2 separate regions of the Homo sapiens genome follow, and region 1 is linked to region 2. Evidence: fine-mapped expression QTL. A gene starts in region 2. The other region holds a variant in brackets. All regions are shown on one strand. Distances are from middle to middle. Region 1 overlaps KIF21B (kinesin family member 21B). Region 2 holds the start of KIF21B (kinesin family member 21B).

Region 1 (8,000 bases), 28 kb before region 2:
AACAAGTCAGACCCTCGGCTAAAAGTGGACCTGAAAACTCCAGCATCCCAGGAGCTGTGTGCAAACCCAAGGTGTCAGGTGTCTTCCGGGGTCAGGGGCTTAAGGCTTCCTGGGGAGGTGCTATGTCTTCCTGGTCAAAGACTCATCCACCCGACTTTGCATGTGTAGCCAAGCACCATGGTGGCTACCACAGAGGCAAAGGTCTCAGAACAGGTGAGCACATTCCAGGCACATGACAAGCGGAAACATGCCACGGTACCCGAGACCAGCATCACTTCGCAGGTTTAAGGTAGAAGGCATTGTGGCCTCTCCCTGGGAGACCCCGTGGCTGCAGGCCCCACCCCAGTTCCATTCTGTGAATCGCTGGGGCCCTGTAGCTGAACAGCCATGGGAGGATTCTGGGGCACTGGCTCTCACAGTGTCTGATTTGAATCCTCGGCTGCTGCACCTTCTGTCCCTCCAACAGAAAACCTAGGCCCCTCCTGGGATGACCCAAGGGTGTTCCTCTCTGCTTCTAGCTCTGGGTTCATAAGAACACTGTCAATGTGGACAGAGCCAGGCACGTGGCTGAAGGAGCTCAGCAATCCAGAGACTGAAACACAGGTCTACACATGAGCCTTCTGTCAGATGCATCTTGGCGTTACATTATTTGCCAGGCTTCAGAGCCATACAAGGATCTTCCCTCATGAGGCTCTCCAGGGCCTCCGCAGCTGAGATGTGAGCTGGCCAGGACACGATGGGGTACCCTGCAATGGCATCAGCTGGGAACTCCCAGGGAGACAGAGTGGGGACGCACATAAGCGCACCCCAGAAGCTGCAACAGCATGTGCAGGCCCCTGTTGGGAGTGCTGCTCCACCCCAGAGATAATGAAGGCCCACCAGCCCCTCCCTCTAAACCATCAGTGGGTGCAGGGGCCCTTGGGTGATCTGGGTACTTGAGTCCACACTTGAGTCTCAACACCCCACAGGGTGAACGCACTGAAGGAGATGGTGCAAACAGGGCTCCTTGGGGCCAGCCCAGGCCAAGCAGGTCTGAGCACAGCAAGGCAGGGACTTCTCCACTCTAGTCAGGTTGATGAAGCCTCCGGACCTGCAGCCCAGGCTTGGGCACAGAGCCTGCCCAGGTGAGGTGGCTGGGCCTCAATGACAGCTATGGGTCCACCACCTCTTCTCAGAATCTACATCAGCCACCACTGCATTGCCTCTCTCCTCTGCACATTGAGTCGGCTGTGAGCATGTAGCTACCAATGGCTGCTAGATGCCCCATCAGCCCCAGGCACTGGGGAGCTCCCCTTTCCTATGTCTCTGTCCCCAAGGCCAGCCCTTCACAGCTTACTGGGGCTGCCACCAGTGCCCAGGGCCTAGCCCAGGGCTGTGGGGATCTGGGCTCCACTGAGGGCTGAGGATCAGAGCAGGCAGGAATGTAGGACTTGGAAGGTCCAAGGGGAGGGAGGACTGAAAGGGAGCATGGATCTGCTGAGCCCCAGACAGGAGCCAGAACACACCAGACACTGGAAACACAAGACTTGAGCCCTGAAGTCAGAAGCACAGGGGCAGGCCCCAGGCCCCAGAGACTAGAGCACTCTGAGTGGTGGCAAAGTAGAAAAGGGAGGCATTGTGCCACCTGGAACACACAGTGGCTTGGGAGCCAGAGAACTGAGTTCAAATCCCAGTGCTACCTCTTGGAAGCTGGAATTAACTTCTCTGAGCCTCACTTTCTCATACATAAAAGAATAATAATAGACTTCTTTCAAGAGGTTCTTCTAAGGACTGAATGTGATCATGCGTGTGAGATGACTAGCCTGGAGCCTGGCCATAGTAAATGTTCAAACGATGGTAACTGTTACTATTATCACTCAGGGCCAGGTTGCACCAAATGAGAGGCCTCATGTGCACTTTGCGCAGACCCGAAGCGAGTATGCTGCAGCCTCCCCAACAGGAGGCAGCACCAAGTGGGGTCCCCTGAAATCCTCACCTGCCCTGAACACGACCCCTGTGCACCCCAGCATCCCCGCACACTGGCCCCACTACTGGGCAGGGTGTTTCACCTTGGACGATGCACTCAGCTAAGAGGACCGTGTCAAGGGCCAAGACAGGGTCAAACTAGGTTAATGCTGTGTGTTGAGAAGAGAATCCACACTTGACAGCAATGATTATTTTTACGATGGTGAGTGGATTCTAAGAAGATGTCACAGGCACTCCAGGCCCCACTCCTCACACCCTCGGCCCCTACCTTGGCCTTCTTCATCTCAGCCACCTCGGCCTGTAGCTTCTTCAGCTCCCTCTCGTAGCGCGACTGGTTCTTAAGCAGCCGGGCGTGCTCTTTCTGGGCGGCCTGCAGCTTCTGCAGGTCCCGGTTCATCTCCCGCAGCCTCTTCTCATAGTCTGCCTTGATCTTGTTGGCCTTCTCCTCAGTATAGCACTCCATGGTGCCTGAGAGCAAGGAGACGCAGCTGTCGGTGCTGGGTCCCTAAGGGCTCCCACTAAATACAGGGTCATCAAGGGGGAACGCAGGAACCCTCTGTTCCAGTCTCATTGTATGACCTTGGGCAAGTCACACCCCTCTCTGAGCCTGTTTCATCATTTGAATGAGGGGGTCAGACTAGTTGATGCCCAAGGCCCCTTCCTGCTCTGACATCCTATTGTAATGGGCAGGGGTGTTTTCATCTTAAGATCTCTGAACCCCTGGTCCCCAACTTCCCACGAGGGTCCTGTAACTCACTCATGCTGGCTGGGTTCTGACCCATGATCCAGTGTTGGAGGAAAGAGCTGGGGCCTGTGGGAAGGGGAAGAGTTTGCAAGAGAAGACAGAATGGTGTGGGCCAGGGCAGAAGGAATAAGCTGATTCTCCACTCTTGGCCTCTCCTACCAGAACTACCAACAGACATCTCCAACTTAACAGGTACAAAACCCAACTCCTCATTTCTACCCCTCTCCCATCTCAGTACACAGCATCACGCTCCTTCCAGAAGCTCACACCCTGAGGCATCCTTGGCTCCCCTCTCCCTCACATCTACCTCCCAGCAAGCAATCAACAAAGCCTTCTGGCTCAACCTGAAAAACATATCCAGAATCTGACTTCTCACCACCTCCTAAGCCACCTCTCCTGGGATCTTTAGAACAGTTTCCTAAGTGGTCTCCAGCTTCCACTTTCACTCCCCCATGCAGCAGCCAGAGTAGTCTTTTAAAAATGCTTTTAAATTTGGTATCACGTAGCTCTCTTGAAACTCCACACATCCCGTCTCCCTCAGAGTATAAGGCAATGTCCTTACAATGACATTTCTTCTCCGACCTGTCCCCTCTCACTGTGCTCTAACCATCCTGGTCCCCTTATCGTTCTGCCAAAATGCCAGGCACATGGCACCCTTATGGCCTTGGCATCTCCTGTTCCCTCTGTCTGGGACGCTCTTCCCCTGGTTGGTGCTGCTCTAGCACTATCAACTCCTTCAAGTCTTTGCTCAGTGAAGTCTTCACGACCATCCTTTAAAAAACTCCAATTCGGCCAGGCACGGTGGCTCATGCCTGTAATCCCAGCACTTTGGGAGGCCAAGGAAGGCGGATCACAAGGTCAGGAGTTCAAGACCAGCCTGGCCAATATAGTGAAACCCTGTCTCTACTAAAAATACAAAAATTAGCCGGGCGTGGTGGCGGGCGCTTGTAGTCCCAGCTACTCAGGAGGCTGAGGCAGGAGAATCGATTGAACCGGGGGTCAGAGGTTGCAGTTAGCCGAGATCACGCCACTGCACTCCAGCCTGGACAACAGAGAGAGATTTTTGATTTGTTTTGTCTCAAAACAAAACAAAACAAAACTCCAACTCACTCTTCAGTAGTTCCTGTTCCCCTTCCTGGCTATACTTATCACCATTTGACACACTATAGTTTCTGCTCTTTCGTTTATGTTTGTCTTTCCCCACTAGAATGTATGCTGCACGAGAGCAGGGATTCTGTCCACTCCAATATCTCTAGCACTAGAACAATGTCTGCTCTGTAAGACATATTCAACATGTGTTTGCTGAATAAGTAAATCAATGAATGAATAAAAAATGGAATGAATGGGCTGAAGAGCAGCATAATGAAGATAGAATGTAAGAACGGTTACAAACAGGTCCAAAGGAAAAGACCCAAGGAACTGAGTGCAGGAGGAAAGGCTGGGAGTGTCATGTTCGCGTGCCTAGGTATATAAAGAATTCTAATACATGACGTGATAGCAAAGAAAAAAAATCAATTTACAATGTTTCATAGGAACTAGGGTTAGACGTAAGAACCTTTAACTGTGGGTCAAAGGACCACAGTCAAAGGTTGGGAAGTCCCTTGCCTAGAAGGCCAGGATAACCCCAACACACCAGCTGCTTTTGACAGAGGAGGGGCTCAGGGAAAAGGGAGGGTCCGGATGGGGTGGAGGGGCATGGCGGTGGCCTCACTGAGGTTCTGCAGCACACGGTCGCGCTCCAGCTGTGTGTCTCGGATCTTGTTCTGCAGCAGAATCAGCTTTTCCTCATACTGGTGCTTGAGCGTCTGCAACCGCCGCTGGCTGTTCTCCAGCTCGTCGATCAGCTTCTGCTTGATTTCGATCTCACAAGTCAGGTCGGCCAGGTCCGCCTGGAAGTTCACCTCTATGGGGGCACAATCAGGCTCAGCCCAGCGTTAGGGCGAGGGGCAAATTGGGGAGCAGATGTGCCAGTGCTGG[G/T]GAGCTGGGACCCTCCTTTGGTCAGCCATGACCAATCAGTGACCAGAGACTGGGCAAAATGATAAATCCTAATGCAGGTAGAATGCGGCCAGAAGGAGGAACACATTTAAAGAGCAGTTCCAGAAAGGCAAGGTAGGGCTCAGGAGCTGGCAGGGGGGATCTACACGTCCTTCCCAGCCATTCGAGGCCAGCATCCACCTGTTCCAGATGACATGGGACCAGCTTCAGTGGAGGAGGGTGAGATGGCTGAGAGCAACTTACAGGGCTAGGGCCAGGGCTGGCAGCAGGCAGGGCTGAAGGGGCAGGCATCTCCATTTAGAGGAGAGGGCTTTGGCACCAGTCAGGCCTACATTCATGTTTGCTCTGCATGGACCACACTGGGGAAGGTCACTAAACCCCTGTGAGCTTGTTCCTCTGTGGTGATATAGGGAAGCTCACCACCCCTATGCATACAGTTGCAGTGAAGACTGAAAGAACCTAGCCGCTCAAAGGGTTAAGGTAAGCACAGTGCCTGGCACCTAATGAACGACCAGGAAGTGTTTGCCATCATTCTCATCATGACTGCCTGTTGTCATTGGTTTCACGTCTGGGAGTGCTGGGGCCTGGACACCATTATCTTTGAGCAGGGCCCGACCCCACACTTGGGCACTGGCAGCCAGGCATTGCATCCCCCACAGCCCACAGCTCAGGCCCACGCACCCTTCTCCTCGGGGTCTGAGTCTGAGTCCACCAGGCTCTCTTCACTGCCCGAGTCCTCATCTTCATCCTCGCGCCCTTCCTCCTCCTCACAGCCACTCTCGTCTCGCTCTTCCTCCTCCTGGGCACCAGGCACCATTGGGGTGGGCCTGGCCTCAGAGAGGGGAGCCCAGAAGCAGAGGTGCATCCCGACACAATGCCTCAGGTGTGTCAGGAGGGTGGGGATTGGGGCAGGCCACAGCTGAGCCCCCCTGCCCACCCCCTACTCCTGGAAGAGTGCCGCCTCCCCCAACACCACCGCAGAACCCCTCTAGGAGGGCCTCCCCACCTGCATCATCCGTTTGGGATGAGGTGGGGTCCTAGGGGATGGAGATCACCATGGTAACCAGTCAGAGATATAAGGAAGTACAAGGATCAACTGGATGCAGACCCAACCGCCTCCTTCACTCCATACAAGGATGCGGATGGGGCCCCCGCCAACCCCAGCAGGGACACAAGGCATGCATGTGGTGAGGTGGGGCGGCCCGTGCTCCTCACCTCCTCCGCCTCGTTCTCATCCGTCTCCTCGCTGTTCTCCTGTTGGAGTTTTGCCCTCTTTTTGAAGGCTTCCTTCTCGGGGCTGCTCAGGGAGGACAGGGAAGCTGGATTAGGAAGGCTGCCCCTGCCCTGAGCACATGGGCAGGACGGCGGCAGCGGCAGAAAAGGAAGGCTCTCACCAGAGGCCGGGGAGAGCACTGGCTCCTACTCTGCAGAGAACCCCACTGCTCTTCCCTAGGGCCACCCAGAGCTGACCTTGGCTCAGCTCAGTCCTTCCTCTCCTTGGGGGAAAGCAGATGGCATAGGAGAACGTGGGGGAGGGAGGTTGCCCAAAAGGCTGAGCAAATCTGCGCCATGAATTCCCAAGCAATACTGAGGCAGCCCCTGGGGCTGGGGGCGTGGAGGTTCCCTCCTAAACACTGGTGGGCAGCAGTCCTCCTTGGGGACGGGCAGGGTCCACTGGGGCGGTCTGAGGGCTCTCAGGGGCGGGGACGACACTCCACTCACCTCTTCCTCCGCTGCCTGACCTCCTTCTTCTTTAGCCGCTCCAGGTCCTGCTTGGCCCTGCGGATCACCTCCGAGGCATCCTCCATGGAGCTGGCAGGGCTGCCCCCGAAGGCCGGGGCGGCTGGAGAAGCACCCAGGGAGTAGGGGCTCCTAGCCGAGGCCCGTGAGAGGCTGCGGCGCAGGGACTCGTTCATGGCTTCACTCTCTAGAAGCTTAGTCCTGCACAGGAAGAACGAGTGGACGGGGCCGAGTGAGCTGCCACAGCCCTTGGCGTCACCTGGCCGAGGCCCCCAGCCCGCGCACACCTGCCGGAGCTCACTCACTCACCGTAGCTCCTCGATCTCCCGGATGTAGTTCTGGATCAGCGCACCAATGGCCTCATTGCCATCGCCTGGAGTGGGACGGCGGGAAGAAGGGTGCGATAAAGAAGATAAATAGGCCAGCGCGGTGGCTCAGACCTATAATTCCAGCACTTTGGGAGGCCAAGGCGGGCGGATCACCTGAGGCTGGGAGTTCGAGACTAGCCTGACCAACATGGAGAAACCCCGTCTCTACTAAAAATACAAAATTAGCCGGGCGTGGTGGCGCATGCCTCTAATCCCAGCTACTCGGGACGCTGAGGCAGGAGAATCGCTTGAACCTGGGAGGTGGAGGTTGCGGTGAGCCAAGATCACACCATTGCACTCCAGCCTGGGCAACAAGAGCGAAACTCCGTCTCAGAAAAAAAAAAAAAAAAAAGATAAATAGCAGCAAGGGTCTTCAACACCACTGATACTACTGCTCTTATATCTGTGCCTCTAATAGGGCAGCTCATATGGGCCTTTTCCAAAAAGAAATCTATAGAAAAAATACTTTGCACAGAGGTATACAAGCACTGTTGGCAATAGCAAGAAACTGGAAACAACCTAAATGCCCATCACTAGAAGGCTACTATAATAAATTTATTCATCATTGTCACATATGGGACACCATGGCAGAAGATGAAGAGAAGTAGGTTTTTTTAAATTTTTATTTTTTGGTTAGAGCCAAGGTCTTGCTCTGTCGCCCAGGCTAGAGTCACAGCTGACTGCAGCCTCAGCCTCCCGGGCTCAGGCAATCCTTCCATCTCAGCCTCCCAAGTAACATGAACTACAGGCATGTGCCACCACATCTGGCTAATTTTTGTATTTTTTGTAGAGACTAGGCGTCCCTATGTTGCCCAGGCTGGTCTCAAACTCCTGGGTTCAAGTGATTCTCCTGCCGTGGCCTCCCAAAGTGCTGGGATTACAGGCGTGAACCAGAAGTAGGTTTAATATGGAAAGATTTATAAAACATAATGCTAAATGAAAAAGGGAAGTCTTAGAGCAATATATATAATCTCATACATAGAAAAAGTAGTCTATATCATACACACATTTAAGAATGTATATGAATACATATTCATACTTGAAACAAATACTGAGAAAGGTGTGGGAAAATACACACCAAGCTGCTCATAGAGGTTCCTTCTGAGAAGTAGAGAGGGCTTGGGGTGGAGGGTTCAGGGAGAGGCGATTTTAATCTTTCACTTCATATAGTGATGTATTGTTTGCAT
Region 2 (11,426 bases):
AGACTAAAGGAAGGAAGCTTAGGGAAGCCAGGCAGAGATAAGAGGGGAGGGGGCTAGGCAACACTGAGGTCTCCCCTCATGGTGGGGGCTCAGAGCTGGGGACTTGAAAGGGTCTTAAACAAATTTGCCATGTGACTTAGCTTCCTTCCCCAATTTCAACTTTGCCAACTTGCATTTCTTAACAGCTACCCCTTTCTCGCCCCATTTGTCAGGCCTATATCTCTGCAGCCTGGGGCAGGTCACAGCTCCGCCCCACCTCTCTCTAGCCTTGCTACACACCTCCTCCCCCAGGTGACTGCCAGTTCTAGTCCAGCCCAGGAAGCTGAGAATCTTTACAGTACAAGGGGATTAATGGATAAAGGGATCACAGGGCAGGCTGGAGAGGCCAGCCTGGGAATCCCTTGGTGCAAAGCCGACTAGCCTGGGTTCAGGGACAGATGGGCCAGATTCCATCTAGCTGGGGAGGCCACAAGGTGGGGCTTTTGGGGTCTGCTCACCCCTGAACTTTCTTCCCTTACCCTGAGCCCCAGGTCCTGAAAGTTTCCTCCTCCGGCTCTCCAGGAGCCCAGGCCTTCACTGAAGCGTTTCACAGCCAGCCAGCTTCGATCTCTTCATCCCAAACAGATTGCAGGGCCAAGAGCCTTAGGCCTGGCACTTCTCACCTAGTCTAATAGCCCTGGGACCTCTCTCCTCTACACACACACACACACACACACACACACACACACAATCAGACCACACCTGTCTCATTCCTGGCCTTCCCTGTCTGAAGAGCTGGACTCCAGGCTCGCTATGTTATTCTCATGGAAATTCAGAAGGCACTTCAGTTGGATTCAAGAAAGGACTTCCAGAAAGTCAGAAAGACAGCTGAACCTGGCAGGAGGTAGTGAGCCCTGGGGCTGGACTAGGCCCTGGACAAGCCTTGCCCTTCCCATAAATGGTCTACTGTAGTGCAGCCCACCACCCAGTCTTTCAGGTGAGAGAAGTGATTTCTGGGGGTGCTGCGGGGGAGGATGGGTAGAAGAGGATCTAAAAACAAGGAAAACTCCCCCTACAGCCCATCACTGGTACCATCTGCTCTCCTTCCCAGCCCAGCCCAGCCCCAGCTCAGTCCTAAGCTCTCTGATTAGAAACTGGGTTCTGTCCAGGCATTGTCTGCTGTACACGGCCGGCTGCCCATTGAGGTCTGGCGTGTGCCGGGGCTGGGCGCTCATGCTGGGGTGGGAGGGGAGGAGTGGGCGGGGCCCTTACCTTCCCGGAGACCCTGAAAGCCTGACTTCTGATGCTCAAATGCCCCACCCCCAATCCAGATCAGCAACTGAAAGGCAAGGCGTGGGGGCACCCAGACCCCACTTAGGGCAATCTGACTGGGAACCAGAGATGACACACATGGTCCTGAACTGGGTGCAGAGGGCAGGCATGATCCCTTCTCTGCAGAAAGGGTCCCGGGAAGCTTCTAGAGGTGGCAGTGGGAAGAGAACATCAGCTTCTCCTCACTGTGCCAATCCCATGAGGCTCCCCGGGTGGGAGTCCCACATCTTTTCAGCCCCAGTCCAGCCTGGAGACCTGAACAGAGGTAGGGGGCCTTTGTTTAGCTCTCTCCAGCAAGATGGAATCTAAAGGAAACCCCCTGTGGAAAGGGCACCCCCAAGCCCCTTCCTTCCCAGCCCTCATTCACAATGGGTGGGGGCCAGAGCTTCATTTCCCTTTTATGGTGTTCTCGGACTCTCCCAATCTGCTGCAGATGCCATATTTACATTTCTCACTCCCACCCCCCAGCCATGCACCCCTCCCTCGACCTCCACAAGATCCTGCTGCAATGTCAGCCCCAGCAGCAGCCTGGCCCCGCCCCAGTCAGCCCACCAGGCACCTGCAGGGCTCCTCTTTGTCTCTGGCTGCTCAGGGCCAGGAAAGCTGTGCTCAAGTGATTCTTGAGTGCTGCCTAGGGTGCATGGGTGGGGGTGCCTCAATCTCCTTCCCTTCACCCAAGCACTGATCAGTGTCAGCTCCTCTTTGGGCTGCAGAGGCCTGGCCAGGTGGCCGTGGCAAGGGGCATCTGCCCTGGGGCAGGAAGAAGAAAGCTTTTTCATTGCCATCTCTGACTCTGTCTAGGAGCAACCTCCTAGGACCCCTGGAATCTGGGTCACATATGACCCAAGGGATCTAGAGACCTGAGAGACCTACCCTAGACCTGGACAATCCCCCGCCCCCTCCATCATACAGGGCTGGGGCAGAGATAGATGTTCTTGCCACATCCCTACCTTGGTGAGCAGCTCCAGATTGGCACTCTGCCGCCAAGACACCCCTCTCAAAGAGAAAAACCCAAAGCAAAAACTGGGAGAAGTGGTGAGGTGTGAAGCATCTCCACCCAGCACAAAGAACACAGATGGCTCAATTTCACAGCATTTCCTGCTCCTGCACCTTTGTGTACCCCTCCCAATAGAACCCACCCAGCCATGTCCTCTCCCTGTCTCATTTCTGCCGGCTCAAGTCCCGGAGCTGTTGAGAATGGAACCCCAGATAAGTCTAGGCAACCCTCCCCTGCTCAATTTTATCTGAGTGCCTGAGGATGGGGCATCTGCATCACACCCTCCTGCCCTCTCAGAGAGAAGCACCTCAGATACACCTCTTCCTCCCTTCCTAGGCCCATCTCCTCTTGGGACAGGACTGGTAGGATTCTCCCCCAAAGCCATTGACTTCCCACAGAAGGCCAAGGCATCATCCCAGCTTTTCCGTTGGTCCCCGCACCCGATCTTTGTCTGCAGATCTGGCTCCCAGGGTGGGTGTGCTGCCTTTGCTAGCTGGACCAAGAGCACATAACTAGCTGACTCGCATGGATGAGGGGAAATTTCCCTCTCTGGTATCCCCGTATGAGACAGCAGCCTCGTGGGGAGGCGAAGAGGAAACGCACAGACGCTCCGGCCTGGGCCAGAGCTGGGTGTGAAATACCGGATTTCCTTGTTTATTCGATTTTCTGATCATTAAGGGCTCCCAAGAGGGGCCCAAAATTACCACCCAAACAAAGCCACCTTCCAGTAGTCGGCGGGGTCGCCGCTCCCCTGCGGCAGACTGGCCAGCGCGCGGCGCCCTCCATCCCGTCCCACGCCGGCCCCTCCTCCGGGAGTGCAGGCTCCAGCCCAAGCGGTGCTCGCGCCCCCCGCCCAAAGCCCACGCGAGACAAAGCCCGAGGCTTCTCCGCGCGCCCCCTTCCCCGCCCCGGGTCCCTACCTGACGGCCACCTTGACGCAGCAGTCCCCCTGGCCGGCCATGGCCCTCTGGAGCTAGGGTCTGGGCGTGGATCAGAGGCGGGGGTCTGGGGGCCAATGCCCGAGGCAGCGGCTGCGGCTGCGGGAGGCGGGGGCGCGGGCGCGGCTGGCGGAGGCTGCGGCGGCGGCGGCTGGAGGTGACATGCTCGCGGGCGGCAGGCCGAGGGGCTCACCCGCGGCCGGCCCCCCGGGGCTGGGCCCGCGCGCCTCCTCGCGCCATCGGGCGGCGGCGCGGAGCTAGCTGACAGCCGGCGGCGCGACCCGCCGCTCCCTACGGCGCGGCACACGCGCACACACCTCCCACCCGGCAGCCACCTCCCGCCGCAGCGCGAACAAAGGGGGCGGGGGCCGATCCGGCCCCGAGCCCGCCCCGAGCCAGCCCCGAGCCCAGGCCGGGCCCCGCCCCGCCCAGGAGCCGCCAATCGAAAGCCCTAATGAGCAGTGGGGGCGGGACTCGCGCCTTTAAAGGGACCTCTTGGCTCGCGGCCACGGGGTGGCTGGGGGTAGGGGGCGGGATTGAAGGGTGGGGGTGGGGGTAGGGGTGGGAGTAGGGGTGGGGGCGCTGGACGCAGACCACGTTAGAACCTCGGCTCCTGGAGTAGCAGAACCTCGGCTTCAATGGGACCCTCATTTCATAAATGAAGAAACTGAGATTCAAAGAGGGGAACTACCGAAGGTTACAGAGCGAGTTCGTGGGTAAGCATGGTAAGAACCCTGGTCTCCCGGGGATCCCACAGCGATTGACGGTTTATAGTTCAAAAGAGCCAGGAAAGCTTCCCTTCTGCATTTATTCCAGTAAATTCGCCAACCCTTCTCGAAGGGAGTTCTTGCTAGCCCCTAACTAAAATTTCCCCCACCTCCACCCTGCAGCATCTTAAAGCTCATGTTTTAGTTGATTCCTGGCCAGGCTCCTAGCCCAAGACTAGCCCCTCCCTACTGCTAGACGACTGTCCCATTGACCTTTATGACCCACAGATGACCCCACTGGGCCTGGCTCACACTCTGCTTGTTGTGGCTGTGGGGCCAGAGGGTCAGTGTGGGAGGCCTGAGCTGCCCTGGGGGAAAGGAGGGAACAAAGGGGGCCCTCAGTTCCGAGCACCTGGGTAGAGAGGCTGGGCGGTGAAGTGGGTGGGGAAGGGAAGGAGGGCAGCTGCCTGCAGGAATGGGTATAAAGGACAAGGAGGACCATGGAGACTTTAACGCTGGGCCTGGATGGAGGAGGAGACCAGTGCTGCAAAGTCACAATTCCCTTCCCAGTCCATCTCCCTCCCTCTGAGCCCAGACGCCTCTTCCCTGCCCCCTGCCTCCCAACATTGGGGCCATTCACAGGGCCCCTCACCAGCTGCCCTCACTTCACCCAGCTCCCTCCCCTGGAAAGGGCCCAAGAGGAGGACCCAGCTGCAGCCCCAGATGTGGATGGGGATCTCTGGGGGAGGGGAGGAAGGGGAGTCTGACTCCAGGCCTCTTACATTACCCTCAGATGATGAAACCATGTCAGAGATTTTGGCAAGGGTGTGGACTGGGGTCTGAGGATGCATCTGTTGGTACCATCTTCCTCCCCTTCCCTCCTCCACTCACACCCCCCTCCCCGCCAATAACTGCTTCATGCAGTAGCTCAGATCCCTGTTTGGCTTGACCTATTAAGGTCAAATCAAAACCAAAGATAATTTCAAGGGCAAATTTCAAGGGCCAATCAACACATCCTTTTCATCCCCATGGCAAACAGGAGGAGCACCGCCAGCAGTGCCCCCATGATGGGGGCTGGAGAAGAGGTCTTGGTGGTATCCTGGACCTTTTATTAGCATTTGAATCTAGAGGAAGCTCTCCCTGGGGCCAGGGGATCACCTCTCCTGGACCAGGAGGTTAGCAGAATGTTGCAGTCATATCCTGCAACATTCCTCCCCATCTTCCAACCAAAATAATTCGTGGGGAGGAGACTAACACATATGGACCACCTACACAAGGTATTTTATGCACATATTCTCATTTTTTCCCTATAACCTTGTAAGCTAGGCTTTTTTATTCTTTTTAAATTTTGCAGATGGGGAAACTGAGCCTCACATGTATGAATTCCAGCATATAAGCAACAGACTCCAGATTTGGACATGTATATCTTATTCCAGGCTTCCCAGATGACCACCAAGGTGGAAGGGATGATGATGTCCAGGCAGAAGGGAGCTAGGCCGGCCCAGGCTTTTCCTCTAGGCACAGCGGACTCCAGGTTCAGCCTTCCCGGATGGTAATGTTGCATTCTGAAGAGCTACTTTCCCGCCAACTCATCTCTGGACTTCTCTGGGGCCCAACTCTGGTTTCCTGCCTGCAGGAGGTCCCCTCTGACTTCCGACAGTAGATGACCCTTCTGACTCACAGTTCTACTGCTGGGAAATGCCTCCAGAGCTGCTGCCCACCCTCTCTGCATCCCTCCAGGTCACTGGGTGTTGAGTCAGGGGAAGCAGGGATACACACGGGCGGGAAACTCAGGTCTCCTAAATGTCAGAGCCTCAGGACTTCGGCTACTCAGAAGTAGCTCCCTCCTGGGCCACCAGGGAGCAGCAGGGCAGCCAGCATCCAGACATCCCCCCTGGGTTCTGCTGCTCAGAGGCTAGATGGAGAACCAAGGTGGGAAAAAGGCTTAAACCACAGCGTGGGGAGATTTAGGTTAGATGGGTCAGAGGAAGTTTAGGACAAGCCTTGCCCTTTTCAGTTTCTGTCCAGCTTCAGCACAGCCACTGCTTCCTCTCTTTGGTTTTTACCCATCCCCCTCTCTCCCATCACCTCTATCCCCTTCCAGCTTTCCTTTCCTTCCCTCCTTCCCAAACCCCAGAGTTTCTCAGGATTAGCTGCCCGTGTGCCTATCTCCCCCACCCCCATGCTTTCCTCACTGTCTCACAGAAACAGGCAAACACACACACATGCATACAACCATGAGCTGGCCCTGAGAGTTCTCTGACTGGACTGGGGTTGGAGCCCCAGCTCTTGTCCTGAGCTGAGGCCCTTCCCCCAGGTATCTTGGGGCTTCCATCATTTCTCTTGACAGGAGCTGTGGGCGTCTGGGCAGATGGGAACCTGGGGGAGGTGTGGGGAGCCCTCTCTGAGGCAGGAAGCTCCCACGCTACTGTAGTTAAAATAATCCGGCAGCAACTTGGGGCAGCCATCTGGGATGCCCAGATCTTCCAGGACACCCAGCTCTCAACAACAACCCTATAGGAACAAATCAAAAACCTAAGAGATACTTATAGGCCCTGGAAATGTCTCCCAAAAGTGGCCTGAACTTGAGCCCTGTTTCCTTTTATCTTCTTCAGGTTAGCACTGGGCATTGGCATTTGCAAAAAAACTCTAAGCATTAAGCAAAACTTGTAGGAGTGGAAGATACAGCGTTCTGGACCTCCAGTCCTAATACCCAGCCACACCCCAGCAGCTATGCATGGTTCCATGGGAGAGCAGGCATAGCCCATCCTGCTGGCATATAGTCCAGCCATATCTTCCAATGCCCACCTGGAGACTAAGCCGAGTTCTGCCCAGCAACAGGAGCTCAGAGCTCCAGAGAGCCTCTCCTGGGGTGCAGACTCAGGAGATCTTAGCTCAGGAGCAGACTTAGCCTGACTTCCTCTTTTATAGGAGGAGACAGACTTAGTTACAGAGGAAACCAGAGTTGTTATAAATAGCAAGGAAGGGAGAAACCTGCTATGGATTACAAACACGCCATCAATCTTAAAACAAACTATTTTTAGTTTCAAATAATAACGAGAGTCTAATTAATGCTCTGTATAACTTCAAATGTGGGATCTTTATCTGCCTTTCTACTTTGTGATGCTTTCTAATACAGTATTAGGGCCAAAGGCAGGAAGAGATGTGGGCAATTCTCAATGTTACCAAATCCTAGATATGGAAAGAACCTGAGAAATTTAGTCCAGCCCTTTCATTTTCAGTGAAGAAACTCAGGCCCAGAGAGGTAAAAGGACTTGTCCAAAGTTGCATAGTAAGGTAGGGACTGAGCAGTGACTAAAAGCCTAGTCCCTGTACTCCAGAAGCAGGACAGTTTCCACAGCAGCACAATAGAACCCAAAGGCTAAACATCTGTGGTTGGGCAGTTGGTGAGTTTATAGCCTGGATAAAAGTCAGGTCTAAGCCAGGTGTGGAGGCTCACGCCTGTAATCCCAGCACTTTGGGAGGCTAAGGCAGGTGAATCACTTGAGGCCAGGAGTTTGAGACCAACCTGGCCAACATGGCAAAACCTCATCTCTACTAAAAAGTACAAAAATTAGCCAGATGTGACGGCACATGCCTGTAATCCCAGCTACTCAGGAGGCTGAGGCACGAGAATCGGTTGAACCCGGGAGGTGGAGATTTCAGTGAGCCGAGATCGCACTACTGCACTTCAACCTGGGGGACAAAGCAAGACTCTGTCTCAAAAAAAAAAAAAAAAAAAAAAAAATTCTGAATGAAATAGCAAAAGACAGCCCAGAAGCTGAAGTGTGGTCTTCTGAGTCACCGAGTTTTGGGTTCACATCCCAGCTCTGCAACTGACTAGCTTTGTAACCCTGGGCCTGTGTGTAACTACTCCAAGCATCAGCTCCCACATCTCAAAATGAGAATAATCACACTCACTTCATTACAGGACTATTATGAGGTTTAAATGAGGTAACGTGGGTCAAGCATCCAGCACAGTGCTCAGCAAAAAATAGATGTTAATTTCCTTCCCATTTCCCTCGGATTCTCTACCCCTTCTTCAATGGATTCTTATCCTCTAACTGGACAGAAGGGCAGATTTGTCATAAAGCAGTCACGTGAGGGATAAGAAGTCTCACATGAGTGTGAATGAGGCTGGGGGTGGGGGCGTAGTTTATGGCAATGAAGTTTGCATGGCACAAGTGGTCAGTGTCAGATCCAGAGGGCGGGAGAAGACAGATTTGCAGAAAATTATCCATCCTCTGCTAACCACTCAGTGACGGGCCTCGGGGTTCAGGGTCAGTGTTTACAGGGGAGGAGGGAGGCTGGGCATGCTGGGTCCTCATTGTACACAAATACCCCGGGCCTCAACCTCACCCATGTGCCACACTGTGCCAAGGGTGTTACATAACATTTCTCTTTTAATCCTCACAACAATCTATGAGGCAAATACTGTTCTCGTCCCCATTTTGCAGAAGAGGAAATGAGCTCAAAGGTCACTTGGCTAGTGTATAGTCATTAGTGCTGTCTCCAAATATTTCCGGCTCTCTGCCTTCTGGCACAAGGTAGGACTGCATGTTCTCACTCTTTGATGCTAGCTGTGGACATGTGACCAACTTTAACCAATAAAACGTGGCGGAACTGATGTGCGTCAGCTCTAGTGGAAGCATTAAGACTCTGGCACCCTCACACCTATGTTGTTCATAGAGTGTAAATGAGAAATAAACTTTTATTGTTAAACCACTGAACTTACAAGTTGTGTGTTGCCACGGCAAGCCTGGCCTACCCTGACACAGTTAGGAAGAGGCAGAGCCAGAGTTCGGAGGCCTGGTCTGTAAAGATGCCAGATGGCGTAAGTACCTTCCAGAGACTGACCTGCTTGCCTAAGACACACAGGAGCCCCTTTTTGGGCTACTTAGAGCCCTGTGGGGCAGGGGAGGAGGGTAGGCAGCCTCCCTACCCTTATCTCTTTCCCCCCGATTTGACTGTGATTTTGCGGGGTTTCCAGGTTGCTGAGCCGGGGGGACTGAATAAATGAGTGTGGTTTTGTATGAACCCTTAGGGGCTCATAGTCTTCTGGTTGGCTGTGCTGAGCTACTTATCAGGACTCTCTAGGAGACACTCTGAGAAGTAATTGGAAAATTCCGACTTCCTCTCTGCCCATCACCCAACTAGGAAATAGTTGGGTATCAGGACACGCCTGCATTCACTCCCAAATCAAAGATCGACCCTGTCAAGTCACTCTTTGCTTTGGGACTCAGTAACTCCTCTGTGAAATGGAGCCACTTCAAAGGGTTAGGGTAACTGCTCGGAGATTCTAGAGGAAGCCCATTTCGGATTGTATAGATCTTCTCAGAGGTGCCTGCAAAATAAGAACAGCTACTATTTCTGAACATTGTGCTGGGCGTTGCACTAAATGCTTCAGATCCATACAGTCATGGAATGCTCACACAACCCATGGAGGTAGGAACATAAAGAAAACCAGGACACCAAGAGGGGCACAAGGTCACACTGCAAGTGGTGGGCAGGGTTCAAACTCAAGCATGCTGCCTGCCAGTTTCGTCCTCTGCTGAATTACAGGGACGGAAAAGGATGAATCTTGTCTTGGCAGCTGCTGAGCTGCCAAGAAAGTGAGCACAGCTCCCTAAGGAATTATGTGCTTCACGTGTCTACATAAAGACTTGCCCATGAAAGACCCCAGCAGCTTTGTCATAGGCCCAAACTGGAAACACAACAAATGTCCATCGACAGGGGAATGGATTAAGAATCTGTGGTGTATCATATGGTGGGATACTATTTAGCAATAAAAAGGAATGAACTATTGATACATGATACAATATGGATGAATCCCCAAATTAATTATGCTCAGTGAAAGAAGCCAGACCAAAAAGAGCACATGCTGTACAATTCCACTGATATACAAATTCTAAAAAATGTAAACTATAGTGTCAGAAAGCAGATCATTGGTTGCCTGGCAAGGGGAGGGAACTGGGAGGGGTAGGAGGGCATGAGGGCATGAGGAATGTTTTGAGGTGGTGGGTATATTTATTCTTTTTTTTTTTTTTTTTTTGAGACGAGGTCTTGCTCTGTCACCTAGGCTGGAGTACAGTGGTGCGATCATGGTTCACTGCAGCCTTGAGCTCCCTGGGCTCAAGGGATCCTCCCATCTTGGACTCCTGAGTAGCTGGGACCACAGGTGTGCACTGCACCACCATGCCTGACTCATTTTTGTATGTTTGTAGAGACGGTTTCACCATGTTGCCCAGGCTGGTCTTGAACTCCTTGGCTCAAGCAATCTGTCAGCCTCAGCCTCCCAAAGTGCTGGGATTACAGGCGTGAGCCATTGTGCCTGGCATATTTATTGTCTTGATGGTGGTGATGCTTCCATGGGTGTATGCTAATACATTTGTCAGACTAATCAAATTACACACTTTGAATATGTGCAGATTATTATACATTAATCATATTAAATACCTCAATAAAGCTGTTGAAAAGTAACTTGTCCCAACTTCTTCTTTGTTCAAACAGAGGTGCAGAGTGGTTGGTGACTTCTCCTGGGCCATGAGGACAGTCAGTTAAAGTCCTGGCTACCTATCCCTGAGCCCACATATCCTATGGCTTCACGGAAGGTCCCACCTCCCAAGAAGGGGCTAGTGGCAGGGAAGTTGAGAAACAGAGAGACGGAAAGGTGGCATAAAACCAAAGAGGGGGACACTGGAGAGGAGCCAGCAAGAGGCCAGGCTGGGGATGTCAGAGAAGAGGAAAACAGAGATGAAGCCACAGGCCTGGGGACAAGGGAAGATGAGAGACAGGAGATGGAACCCCTTCCCAGACCTGGTGATGAGGAGGAGGCTCTGAGCAGTCCTAGCCAGGCCCCAGAGAAGCCATTCCCTTCCTTTGACAGATGCCACCTGTGTACGCCCCTGCCCGCGAAGAAGTTAACAAATCACCACCACCACCCTGCCCTGGCCTGGTTGCTGTTGACGTTCAGTCTCCAGGATGCATCATTTTCTTGGATTTTAATAGATAATTGCCTCGGCCAGACCCTGCAGAGCAAATTGCCAGCAAATGTTCATTGAACACTTTAAAAATCGAGGGGAAGAGGAGAGGGCTTGGAGGCAGCATGTGGGGAGAGGTCAACCTCTAAAGTGCCAGCTCTCCAGAAATGCAGCCGGAATGAAGGTTTGAAGGGATGGTAGTGAATGGAGCACTCCAGGCAGTGTGTGTGCTGAATCTCAGGGCGGTTTTAGGAGCACTTCAAAGGCCTTTTTGACCAAGATATTCACGTTGGCCTGAGGTGAAACAACTCTTAAAAAGTTAGTCTGTGTCCTCCCTGCAACCCTTGTATTTCCTGACACTTGTATCCGTAGACAGAGGAGACCCTTTGCCTTAAGGAGAATTTGGGAATTAGGATCTAGTGAGGATGCGGAGAAGTAGGAAAAGGTCCTTTTTTCTCTTTAACTTCTAAACTCGGAGGATCCAAATAGCAGG

The links. PIP is the estimated chance that this variant, and not a neighbour inherited with it, causes the effect.
Region 1: its variant is fine-mapped to the expression of KIF21B in whole blood (TOPMed, PIP above 0.99).

Annotation. Positions count from the first base shown.
Region 1 is chr1:200,993,963-201,001,962 of GRCh38, forward strand. KIF21B (kinesin family member 21B) reads right to left here. Exons shown (of 35, transcript NM_001252102.2): 10 at 6,755-6,818; 11 at 6,428-6,646; 12 at 5,921-6,002; 13 at 5,387-5,504; 14 at 4,422-4,613; 15 at 2,234-2,433. Among named protein-coding and RNA genes, the nearest start is that of KIF21B, 26 kb to the right of the region's middle. RefSeq lists an enhancer at 6,140-6,640. The variant G/T (reference allele first, on the strand shown) is at 4,688.
Region 2 is chr1:201,020,115-201,031,540 of GRCh38, forward strand. KIF21B (kinesin family member 21B) reads right to left here and starts at 3,600. Exons shown (of 35, transcript NM_001252102.2): 1 at 3,229-3,600. The coding sequence starts at 3,269. LOC101929305 (a long non-coding RNA gene) reads left to right here and starts at 3,835. Exons shown (of 4, transcript NR_188464.1): 1 at 3,835-3,971; 2 at 5,390-5,505. RefSeq lists silencers at 977-1,126, 3,007-3,056, 3,457-3,816, 4,168-4,325 and enhancers at 1,357-1,486, 1,795-2,402, 8,447-8,741.